Homo sapiens: one gene and its partners. The protein of the gene in region 1 purifies or fractionates together with the protein of each later gene. This does not show direct contact. Each region holds a gene or a part of one and is shown in the gene's direction. Other genes may lie near its edges.

Region 1 (3,655 bases):
ACACTAACTCCCCAGTCCCCTCTGCCCCCAGCACCAGGCAACTACCATTCTACTTTGTGTCTCTATGAATTTGACTATTCTAGAGATGTCATATAAGTGGAATCTTACAATATTTGTCTTTTTTTTTTTTTTTTTGAGACAGGGTCTGGCTTTGTTGCCCAGGCTGGAGTGCAATGGCACGATCTCAGCTCACTGCAACCTCCACCTCCAAGGCTCAAGTGGTCCTCCCACCTCAGTCCCCCAGGTAACTAGGACTACAGGTGTGCACCACCACGCCCAGCTAATTTTTGTATTTTCAGTAGGGATGGGCTTTCACCATGTTGGCCAGGCTGGTCTTGAACTCCTGCGCTCAAGTGATCCACCCATCCCAGCCTCCCAAATTGCTGGGATCACAGGCATGAGCCACCGCACCCGGGCTATTTGTCCTTTTGTGTCTGGCTTATTTCACTTAGCATAAGTTCTTCAAGGTTCATCCATGTTGCAGCATGTATAAGAATTTCCTTTCCTTTTTAAGGCTGAGTAATATTCCATTGTATGTATATACCACATTTTGTTTAGTCATTCATCCATTGGTAGACACTGGGATTGTTTCCACCTTTTGGCTATTGTGAATAATGCTGCTGTGAACATTGTCTAAACATCTGAGTCCCTGCTCTCAATTAGATTGGGTATGTACCCAGAAGTGGAATTGCTGGGTCGTGTGGTAATTCGATGTTTAATTTTTGGAGGAACCACCGTACTGTTTTCCATAGCAGCTGCACCATTTTACATTCCCACCAGAAATGCACAAGGGTTCCAGTTTTTCCACATTATTGCCAACACTCATTATTTTCTGGGAGAAGGGAGATTATTTTTAAATACAGATTGAGAGATTGAGTATCCCTAATCCAAAAATCCAAAACACTCCAAAATCTGAAAGTTGAGCACCAGCATGATACTTAAAGGAATGCTCATTGGAGCATTTCAGATTTTTGGATGAGGAATGCTTAACAGGTAAGTATAATGTATACAATCCACAATTCAGAATCCAAAACATTTCTGGACCCAAGCATTTCAGATAAGATGTTCAACCTTTCTTTTTTTCTTTTTCTTTCTTTTTTTTTTTTGAGACACAGTCTCGCCCTGTTGCCCAGGCTGGAGTGCAATGGCGTGATCTTGGCTCACTGCAACCTCTGCCACCCGGGTTCAAGCGATTCTCCTGCCTCAGCCTCCCAAGTAGCTGGGATTACAGGCACCCACCACTATACCTGGCTAATTTTTTTTGTATTTTTAGTAGAGACGGAGTTTCACCATGTTAGTCAGGTTGGTCTCGAACTCCTGACCTCAGGTGATCTGCCTGCCTCGGCCTCCCAAAGTGCTGGGATTACAGGCGTGAGCCACCACGCCCGGCCAATGTTCAACCTTTCATAGCCATCCCAATAGGTCTAAGTCACAGGGAATTTTGAAATCTGGGTTAGACCACAGAGACTTTCTCTTTGTGGAGGGAGGGCCACAAGAGATAAGGGTTTTTGGGCATACTTGGGTCCATCCACATCCCAGGCAAGGGTTTTTGGGCATACTTGGGTCCATCCACATCCCAGGCCTCTCAGAAACTAGAAATGTGAAGCTGCTCAAGTCAGCCCAGGAGTTTGTCCCTCACCTCTGATCCTGACTCCTTCCTGGCCTCTCCCCACGCAGGTGCCTGGCTGCTACAAACCATGCAATGAGCCATGCCCCGCCCTGGACACCCCCGCCCAGCATCTGGGCCTCCACGCTTGGGACCGTGGGAGCGGCCAACAGAGCTATGTCTGGAGACATATGATAAACCACCTCAGCCCCCACCAAGCCGCCGCACCCGTAGACCAGACCCCAAGGACCCTGGCCACCATGGGCCAGAGAGCATTACCTTCATCTCTGGCTCTGCTGAGCCGGCCCTTGAGTCCCCCACCTGCTGCCTGCTCTGGCGACCCTGGGTGTGGGAGTGGTGCCGGGCTGCCTTCTGCTTCCGCCGCTGCCGGGATTGCCTCCAGCGCTGTGGAGCCTGTGTGCGGGGATGCAGCCCCTGCCTGTCTACTGAGGACTCCACTGAGGGGACTGCTGAAGCCAACTGGGCCAAGGAGCACAATGGAGTGCCCCCCAGCCCTGATCGTGCACCCCCCAGCCGGCGGGATGGCCAGCGGCTCAAGTCAACCATGGGCAGCAGCTTCAGCTACCCCGATGTTAAGCTCAAAGGCATCCCTGTGTATCCCTACCCGAGGGCCACCTCCCCAGCCCCTGATGCGGACTCCTGCTGCAAGGAGCCACTGGCCGATCCCCCACCCATGCGACACAGCCTGCCCAGCACCTTTGCCAGTAGTCCTCGTGGCTCCGAGGAGTACTATTCTTTCCATGAGTCGGACCTGGACCTGCCGGAGATGGGCAGTGGCTCCATGTCGAGCCGAGAAATTGATGTGCTCATCTTCAAGAAGCTGACAGAGCTGTTCAGCGTACACCAGATCGATGAGCTGGCCAAGTGCACATCAGACACTGTGTTCCTGGAGAAGACCAGTAAGATCTCGGACCTTATCAGCAGCATCACGCAGGACTACCACCTGGATGAGCAGGATGCTGAGGGCCGCCTGGTACGCGGCATCATTCGCATTAGTACCCGAAAGAGCCGTGCTCGCCCACAGACCTCGGAGGGTCGTTCAACTCGGGCTGCTGCCCCAACCGCTGCTGCCCCTGACAGTGGCCATGAGACCATGGTGGGCTCAGGTCTCAGCCAGGATGGTAGGTGGGGGCCCCATGGGGCTGAGGGGCAGAGTAGGGGAGGCTCTGGCCAGGGGAGGGTTGGAATGGGGTCTTTAGTCACTGTGGGTCTACCCCTCAGCCAGTCCCTGCCTTTCCTCCTCCTTTCTGTCAACTCTTGCATCCCCTCTCCCCAGCTCCCACTCTGGCCCTTCCTGGTGAGGTCCGAGCAAGGCTGAGAGAAGCATGCAGACCCTGGGAGAGCTCTCTGGCCATCGCTGCTGTCCCCAGAAAGGTCAAGGTTCCCTCTGCATTCAACAAGTTTACCCAAAAGGCTCCTCTCCTCTGCTGTCTCCTGCCAGAGTAGCTTCTAGGCCTGGTCTGGTGAACAGGACCTAGGGACCCACATGAATTTGGGCCTCTGACCTGTTCTGGGCTAACCAAAACTCCCACTCATCCATCACTCTGCGCATGCACACGTTGTCTATGTCTCTGTCTTTAAGCATTATTTTTCTAGCCCTGCCCAGGAGTGAGTGGCTCCTCCCTCATCGGGCTGGGAACAGAAGTAGGAAATAGGGTTGAAAGAACGTGCTAATGACCACTGCTTGCCTCACGTTCCCTCCCTAGAGCTGACAGTGCAGATCTCCCAGGAGACGACTGCAGATGCCATCGCCCGGAAGCTGAGGCCTTATGGAGCTCCAGGTGTGGTCTTGACCTAATGAGGGGTGTGGAGGGTGGGGGACTACCCTAGGGGCCCCTCACCTGCTGCTCTCCCAGCTTTCTTTTGGGGTGATGAGGATGACATCAAAAAGGGACGGGGACCTAAGCAGCCACAGACCTGTCTCCATCTAGCAAGCTGGCTTAAAGTGGGTGCAGGTGCCCAGAACAGGCAAGCTGAAAGTGATCAGACCCCAACCTTCAAGCCCAGATGACTAGGAAAGTAGTGGGT
Region 2 (3,446 bases), on another chromosome or scaffold:
GGTAAAAATAAATAAAGTAAAAATGCAAACAACAAACTCTTACGATTATCTGTAACTCAAAAGACTGAAAACGGGCTAACTTCTCTATAAAAAGTTCTCTTACCTCAGCCTCCTGAGTAGCTGGGACCACAGGAGTATGCCACCACACTTGGCTAATTAAAAAAATTTTTTTTCTAGAGATGGGGTATCCCTGTGTAGCCCAGGCTGGTCTCGAACTACTGGGCTTAAGCAGTCCTCCTGCCTTGGCCTCCCAGAGTGCTGGGATTACAGGTGTGAGCCACGGTGCTTGGCCAGTTTGTTCTTTTTTATGACTGAAAAATAGTCCATTGTATGGACATACCACATTTTGATCACCCATTCATCCACTGATGGATATTTCAGTTGTTTTTGCTTTGGGACTATTGTGCATAGTGCTACTATGAATGCTTATGTACGAGTTTTTGTGTGAACATATGTTTTCAGTTCTCTTGGGCATATTCCTAGGAGTAGAATTACTGGGTCACATGATAACTCTATGTTTAACTGTTTGAGGAACTGCCAAACTGTTTTCCAACAACTTTAACTTTGGGTTTAAATTATTTTGCTGGGCCGGACGCTGTGGCTCACACCTGTAATCCCAGCACTTTGGGAAGCCTAGGTGGGTGTATCACGAGGTCAAGAGATCAAGACCATCCTGGCCAACATGGTGAAACCCCGTTTCTATTAAAAAATACAAAAAAAATTAGCCAGGCATGGTGACGGGTGCCAGTAGTCCCAGCTACTCGGGAGGCTGAAGTAGGAGAACCACTTGAACCTGGGAGGTGGAGCTTGCAGTGAGCCAAGATTGCGCCACTGCACTCCAACCTGGACGACAGAGCAAGACTCCGTCTAAAAAAAAAAGTGGCTGGGCGCGGTGGCTCATGCCTGTAATCCCAGCACTTTGGGAGGCCGAGGTGGGTGGATCAAGAGGTCAGGAGATCGAGACCATCCTGGCTAACATGGTGAAACCTTGTCTCTACTAAAAATACAAAAAAACAATTAGCTGGGCGTGGTGGCAGGCGCCTGTAGTCCCAGCTCTTAAGGAGGCTGAGGCAGGAGAATGGTATGAAACCGGGAGGCGGAGCTTGCAGTGAGCCGAGATCACGCCACTGCGTTCCAGCCTGGGTGACAGAGCAAGACTCCGTCTCAAAAAAAAAGTTACTTTGCTTATACTAAACACAAATTTTTCAGTAGGATTTTATTGAATGTATGCTAACCAATACCAAGGAAATATGATTCTGAAAACAGATTTGTATAATTAATTAATTTAAAGGGAAGGCTGGCCTAGCTTATTGTTAGGTAATGTAAATATGTCCTTTTTCCTGAAATTAATATAAATTCAGTGTAATCCTTATTACAATCTGTCATTGTTTGATTTTTTTTTAAATGACAGATAATCCAAGAGTTCATTGGTAAAACTCAACAAATGAGGATAATAAGAAAATGAAAAGGGAGAATAATGTCAGCAAAGGGGGAAATATATGAAAAATAAATTCTAAGTAAAATAGTAAACCTTATTCTAAAGCTGTAGTTATTTAAGTACCATGATACTGGCACAGTAAACAGATCAGTGGGACAGAATAGAGTTCAGAAACAGATCTAATTAATGAAAAATACAGTGTGGTAAAGATTGCATTTCAAATTACTGTGGGGAAATGGAATATTAGAAAAATAATCTTGGGACCACTGATTAGTCATTAAGGAAAAAACAAGACTGGATATTTACCTTATTCCTTATATCAAAATAACTTTCAAATGGATCAAACATTTAAATGTAAAAAAGGAAACCATGCAGATCACTAGAAGAAATATTTGTGAATTTTTTGTTTTGTTTTGTTTTTTTGGAGATGGAGTCTCACTCTGTCACCCAGGCTGGAGTGCAGTGGCGCAATCTTGGCTCACTGCAAGCTCTGCCTCCCGGGTTCGCGCCATTCTCCTGCCTCAGTCTCCTGGGTAGCTGGGACTACAGGCGCCTGCCACCACGCCCAGCTAATTGTTTGTATTTTTAGTAGAGATGGAGTTTCACTGTGTTAGCTAGGATGGTCTCGATCTCCTGACTTTGTGATCCCCCCACCTCGGCCTCCCAAAGTGCTGGGATTACAGGCGTGAGCCACTGCGCCTGGCCAAATTTTTTTTTTTTTTATAATATTAGAATGGGTAACGCCTTTGTAAGTCGGTGATTCAAAAGATCAATAAATCTGAAAGCACAAATATAAAACATTTATATTTGGTAACAATAAATAAATAAATAAAGCCAAAATACAAACAATAAAATCTTAAGATTATCTGTAACTCATAAGACTGAAAAGGGCTAACTTCTCTATAAAAAGTTCTCTTACAAATCTTTGAGAAGACCTTCCTTACTTTCTGCCTCCTCCAGACAAAACTGGGTAAAGGATTTTAATAGGCAATTCATAAAAGAAGAATAAAGTAGAGGTCATATAAAACAATATTTAACCTCACTCATAATTAGGAAAAAAAATAGTAATTTAGCATTTCTTTCATTTACCAGATTGTCAAAAATTTTAAAATTTGATAATAGGCAATCATGTAGACAGTTTAGGACAGTGGACACTGTTGAGCATTATTGACTGGAATATATAGTACTTATATAACCTTTTTAGAGGGCCATTTGACAATGTCTGTGAAAATCATGTTCTTTATGACACGGTAAATTATTCTGCAAAGAATGTGTCCCATAGATATATTCATAGAAGTAGGCATATATACACACATGCTTATAGTATTAAATAATAGCTGTGCATTTATTAAAAAGAATACAGTCTGGGGCACTGTGCCATGCACCTGTGGTCCCAGCTACTTGGGAGGCTAGGAGGCTGAGGCAGGAGGATAGCTTGAGCCCAGGAGTTCAAAGCTGTAGTGTACTATGACTGCACTTGTGTACAGCCATTGCACTCCAGTCTGGGCAACCTAGCAAGACCCCATCTCTTAAAAAGAAAAAAAGAAGAAGAATACAGCCTGAAGTGAATAATATGCATGATATGATCCCCATTTGTATTTTCAAAAATGTGTTTGTATACTTAGTAATAATTTAGAAAACATCTGAAAAAATTCACATCAAAATGGAAATGGTTTTTAAAATATTGACCGGAATTACAAACATAATTATTCCAAACTTGTCTATTTAAATTTTGTTATATACTACATTTTTGAATTATTTAATTTACTGTTAATTTGCTATTTAATTTACAGTTGGCTTTGAAAAAGGAAAGTAAATCTTACCTTTTTATGTATATAAAAAATAATAGACTTTTAGGTCCTTTTAAAATAGTCTCGCGTATAGTTTTAAAATATATTTACATATCCACACTGTACTTTAAAATTCTTTGCCTTTAAATTAAAGAAAACATGAAATTCTCCCAGAATGGCTGTTTTTAGAATAGGATATAATCATATATAATTGCTAA
Region 3 (3,655 bases), on another chromosome or scaffold:
AATATTTTTTTAACAGCAACAACAAAAATACACAGGAAGCTTTTCAAGTTACAAGTTAAAAGTGGTCTGTAAAGCTGCTCTATTTTGTGATGGCCTGCTTGCATAAACTGGTAATCTGACATGAAACAAAACCTTAAGAGCTTCAAAGGGGAATCTGCAGCCTCACTGAACATGGAAGTCTTATCCTCTGCCTCTGTGTGTGAGGCCTTCCCACCATTTTGACTGTGTCTTGGCATTCCCTGTCTTATTTGTGTTGTAAATAATTTTCTCTTTGGGCATTATCTCAGATGTCCATTTTATGCTTACTATTTAATGCCCTTATTTGACATTATCTTGGGCGTTTAATAAACTGAATGTATATTATGGATGCATTGGTAGGTAGGGTTTTTGTGTGTGTGTATTTACTTGTTTGTTTTCGAGACAGGGTCTCACTCTATCACCCAGACTGGGGTGCAGTGGTGTGATCATGACTCACTGCAGCTTCGACCTCTGGGGCTCAAGTGATATTCCCAACTCAACCCCCTGAGTAGCGGGGACCACAGGCTTGTGCCACCACAACTGCTTAATTAATTTATTTTTTTATAGAGGGGTCTCACCAGGTTGCCCAGGCTTGTCTCGAACTCTTGGACTCAAGTGATCCTCCCAAAGTGCTGCGGTTACAGGTGTGAGCCACCATGCCCAGCCTATAATAAATTAGGCTGAGTGCCTGCCATCTTGCAGTTTGCACTTTAGTTAAGAGATAAGTGAAAAAAATATTTTGTTTTGTGGTAGAAAGCGTGTTCCAGATAAAGGAACAGCTCATATGAAGGCCTGAGGTAGGAGAAAGAGAGGATTTTAAAGGGTTAGAATGGAAGTCAGGTTGGTGAAAAGTATGTACTGAGTGAGAAAGGAAAAGGACTAAGGACGTAAAGGCCAGGTGATATCACCCATGATAAGAACATTATTCTGACCAGTACCAATAACTTTGTACTTATTACAGATAATCCACACTCATAAACTAGTCTTACAATGCCTCCAAACCAGAGGTGAAGCTGTCATTATAAAAGGTTAGAAACAGAAAAGTGGGTGCTCTGGAAAATTCAGAATATTTCCCAAGACTTCATTTCATCATGGTCTCCAAGATTATTTGAAGACTTCTATTCAAAAAAAGGACCCATTCTTAAAAATTCCCTAATTCTGCACTAAGTCTGCCTTTTCTTCTATTTTCGTATAATTTTTTTTTCCTTTCTTTGACTCCCATTCAGACTTGGAGAAAGTATAGCAGCAAACAATGCCTATAGACAACAGGAAACAGAACATATACCCAGAAAAATGCCCTGGCAATCATCAAATCACAGTTTTCCAACATCAATAAAGTGTTTAACTCCTCATTTGAAAGATGGTGTTCCTGGATTGAATATTGAAGAATTAATAGAGAAACTTCAGTCTGGAATGGTGGTGAGTGAAAAAATAGCAATTATAACCTGGTACATATTAGCTATATGTCAGTCCCAATTATAACGTGTATCTAAACACTGTCAGGTACAGATTTCACTATTGAAACCTTAATATAAGAAATAACAATATTCTGGAAAATTTGGAAATAAGAAAAATCAGTCAAAATTTCAACATTTTGCCGGGTGCGGTGGCTTACGCCTGTAATCCCAGCATTTTGGGAGGCCAAGGAGGGTAGATTGCCAGAGCTGAGGAGTTCAAGACCAGCTTGGGCAATATGGCGAAACCCCGTCTCTATTAAAAATACAAAAAATTAGCTGGACGTGTTGGCTCATGCCTGTTGTCTCAGCTACTCTGAAGGCTGAGGCAGGAGAATCACTTGAACCCAGGAGGCAGAGGTTGCAGTGAGCCAAGATCATACCACTTCACTCCAACCTGGGTGACAGTGAGACCCATCTCAAAAAAAAAAAAGAAATATTTGTGACTTACCTGATGTAGCATTTGTTTTTATTTTGTTACTCATCATTAAGTTTTAATGATTTAGTTTTGAAGTAGGCATTTATTTTGTCATTGTGTCAAAATATTTTATTAAAATTTTAAGTTTTTTTACTCTTAAAATGTAGGTAAAGGATCAGATTTGTGATGTGAGAATATCTGACATAATGGATGTATATGAAATGAAACTATCCACATTAGCTGTGAGTATAAGCTTATTTTAACAATGTGTAATAAGCTTTAATAGATGTATTCCTAAAATGAAAATTAATGATATGTTTTCTTGTAGTCCAAAGAAAGCAGGCTACAAGATCTTTTGGAAACAAAAGCTCTAGCCCTTGCACAGGCTGATAGACTGATTGCTCAGCATCGCTGTCAAAGAACTCAAGCTGAAACAGAGGTGTGTAGAATATAAAGACACATCTGATTTGTAGAAAAATTAATAAGTAAAACATGCAAAATATTAGTTATGTATTTGTTACTCTAATTGAAGTAAATTCTCCTTAGCATTTGACATGCCTCCTTCCTTCTTCCTGAAATTCTGTCCTCTTTAATTTTGGTTACATCGTTACCTGATTTTTTTTTGCTACCTTGTATTATTTTCCTATGTTATTTATTTTGTACCTTTAAGTGTTGGGGACTCTGGGACTTATATTCTAAACCTTTTTCCTTTAGTTATGTGTTCTGTGGTTTCAATGGTTACCAAAATAGTAATGTTCCTAATTTTATATGTCAAGCACAGATCATTTTCCTGAGCACTATGTGCCTATGTTGCTCCATTTAAATATACAGCAAATACCACAAACTCAGCATAACCAATAATGAACTAATCACCCTTCCCTTTTTAAAATTATTCTTATGTATTCCCTCTTCTGTTTTTAGTGTTCTACAAATAAGAACCCTGGAAATCACAGTTTTTACCTCCTATAATTATTCACCAAGTCCAGTTGATTCTACCTTCTAAATATTACTCTTTTCTGCCCTATCTCTGCTTCTACCACTATTTGTTATAGGCTGGATCCTTTTCATTTTTTGTATGAATCATAGCAGAGCAATTAGTCTTCCTACCTGTAGTCTTCTACCCTCTTCTCAGATACTCTACAGCCAGTCATCTTTCCTTGGTTCTACCCCCTTCACCTAGCCGCTCCCCCAAGGATCTCTAAGGCAGTAAAATGATCCTGTCCCTCTTGTGCTGAGTATCTTTCACAGTAGCTGCTATTGCTTTCAAATATCATTAAAATTCTTTAGTTTGGCATATAAGGATTCTAACTATATAGGCCTCAATCCACATCTTTCATTTCTGCGCATTCTTTGCAGTCAGCCATGTTAGGCCACTTTGCTTTTTCTGAAACTTGACATATTCTCGTATTTCCTTGTCGTGGCACTTGACTTTCCATGTCTGGAACACCATTTCCTCTCTTCTGCCTAACTCATAATCCTTCAGATTTCAGTTAAAATATCCTCATTACCCAGAAGCCTACTCTGGTCTCCTTCCCACACGTGTTTGACGATCCTTCCTCTGTGTATCAAACCTACGCTTATCTCTTAATAACATTTTTCAAACCACGTGGAAATTCTTTTTTCCCTCACTCATGGTATCAAAGACTGCTTCTATAGCTCCAGGCCCTAGCATAGCACTTGGCACATAATAGGTGCTCAGTAAATTTGGCATTGTATTATGTACATATATAATGTATACCTTAAGAGTGAACTTACTGCAGTAATA

The links.
Region 2: the proteins of KDF1 (region 1) and SEC24B purify together in Homo sapiens (affinity purification with mass spectrometry, with the first as the bait; one large-scale study listed by BioGRID). This does not show direct contact.
Region 3: the proteins of KDF1 (region 1) and CIP2A purify together in Homo sapiens (affinity purification with mass spectrometry, with the first as the bait; one large-scale study listed by BioGRID). This does not show direct contact.

What each region holds. Positions count from the first base shown.
Region 1 is NC_000001.11:26,950,435-26,954,089, reverse strand, and holds part of KDF1 (keratinocyte differentiation factor 1), read left to right. Parts: intron 1-136; exon of another isoform or gene 137-244; intron 245-1,677; 5' UTR 1,678-1,709; coding exon 1,710-2,748; intron 2,749-3,333; coding exon 3,334-3,408; intron 3,409-3,655. UniProt on the Homo sapiens protein: Plays a role in the regulation of the epidermis formation during early development. Required both as an inhibitor of basal cell proliferation and a promoter of differentiation of basal progenitor cell progeny.
Region 2 is NC_000004.12:109,534,686-109,538,131, forward strand, and holds part of SEC24B (protein transport protein Sec24B), read left to right. Parts: intron 1-3,446. UniProt on the Homo sapiens protein: Component of the coat protein complex II (COPII) which promotes the formation of transport vesicles from the endoplasmic reticulum (ER).
Region 3 is NC_000003.12:108,558,431-108,562,085, reverse strand, and holds part of CIP2A (protein CIP2A), read left to right. Parts: intron 1-1,244; coding exon 1,245-1,437; intron 1,438-2,057; coding exon 2,058-2,132; intron 2,133-2,218; coding exon 2,219-2,329; intron 2,330-3,655.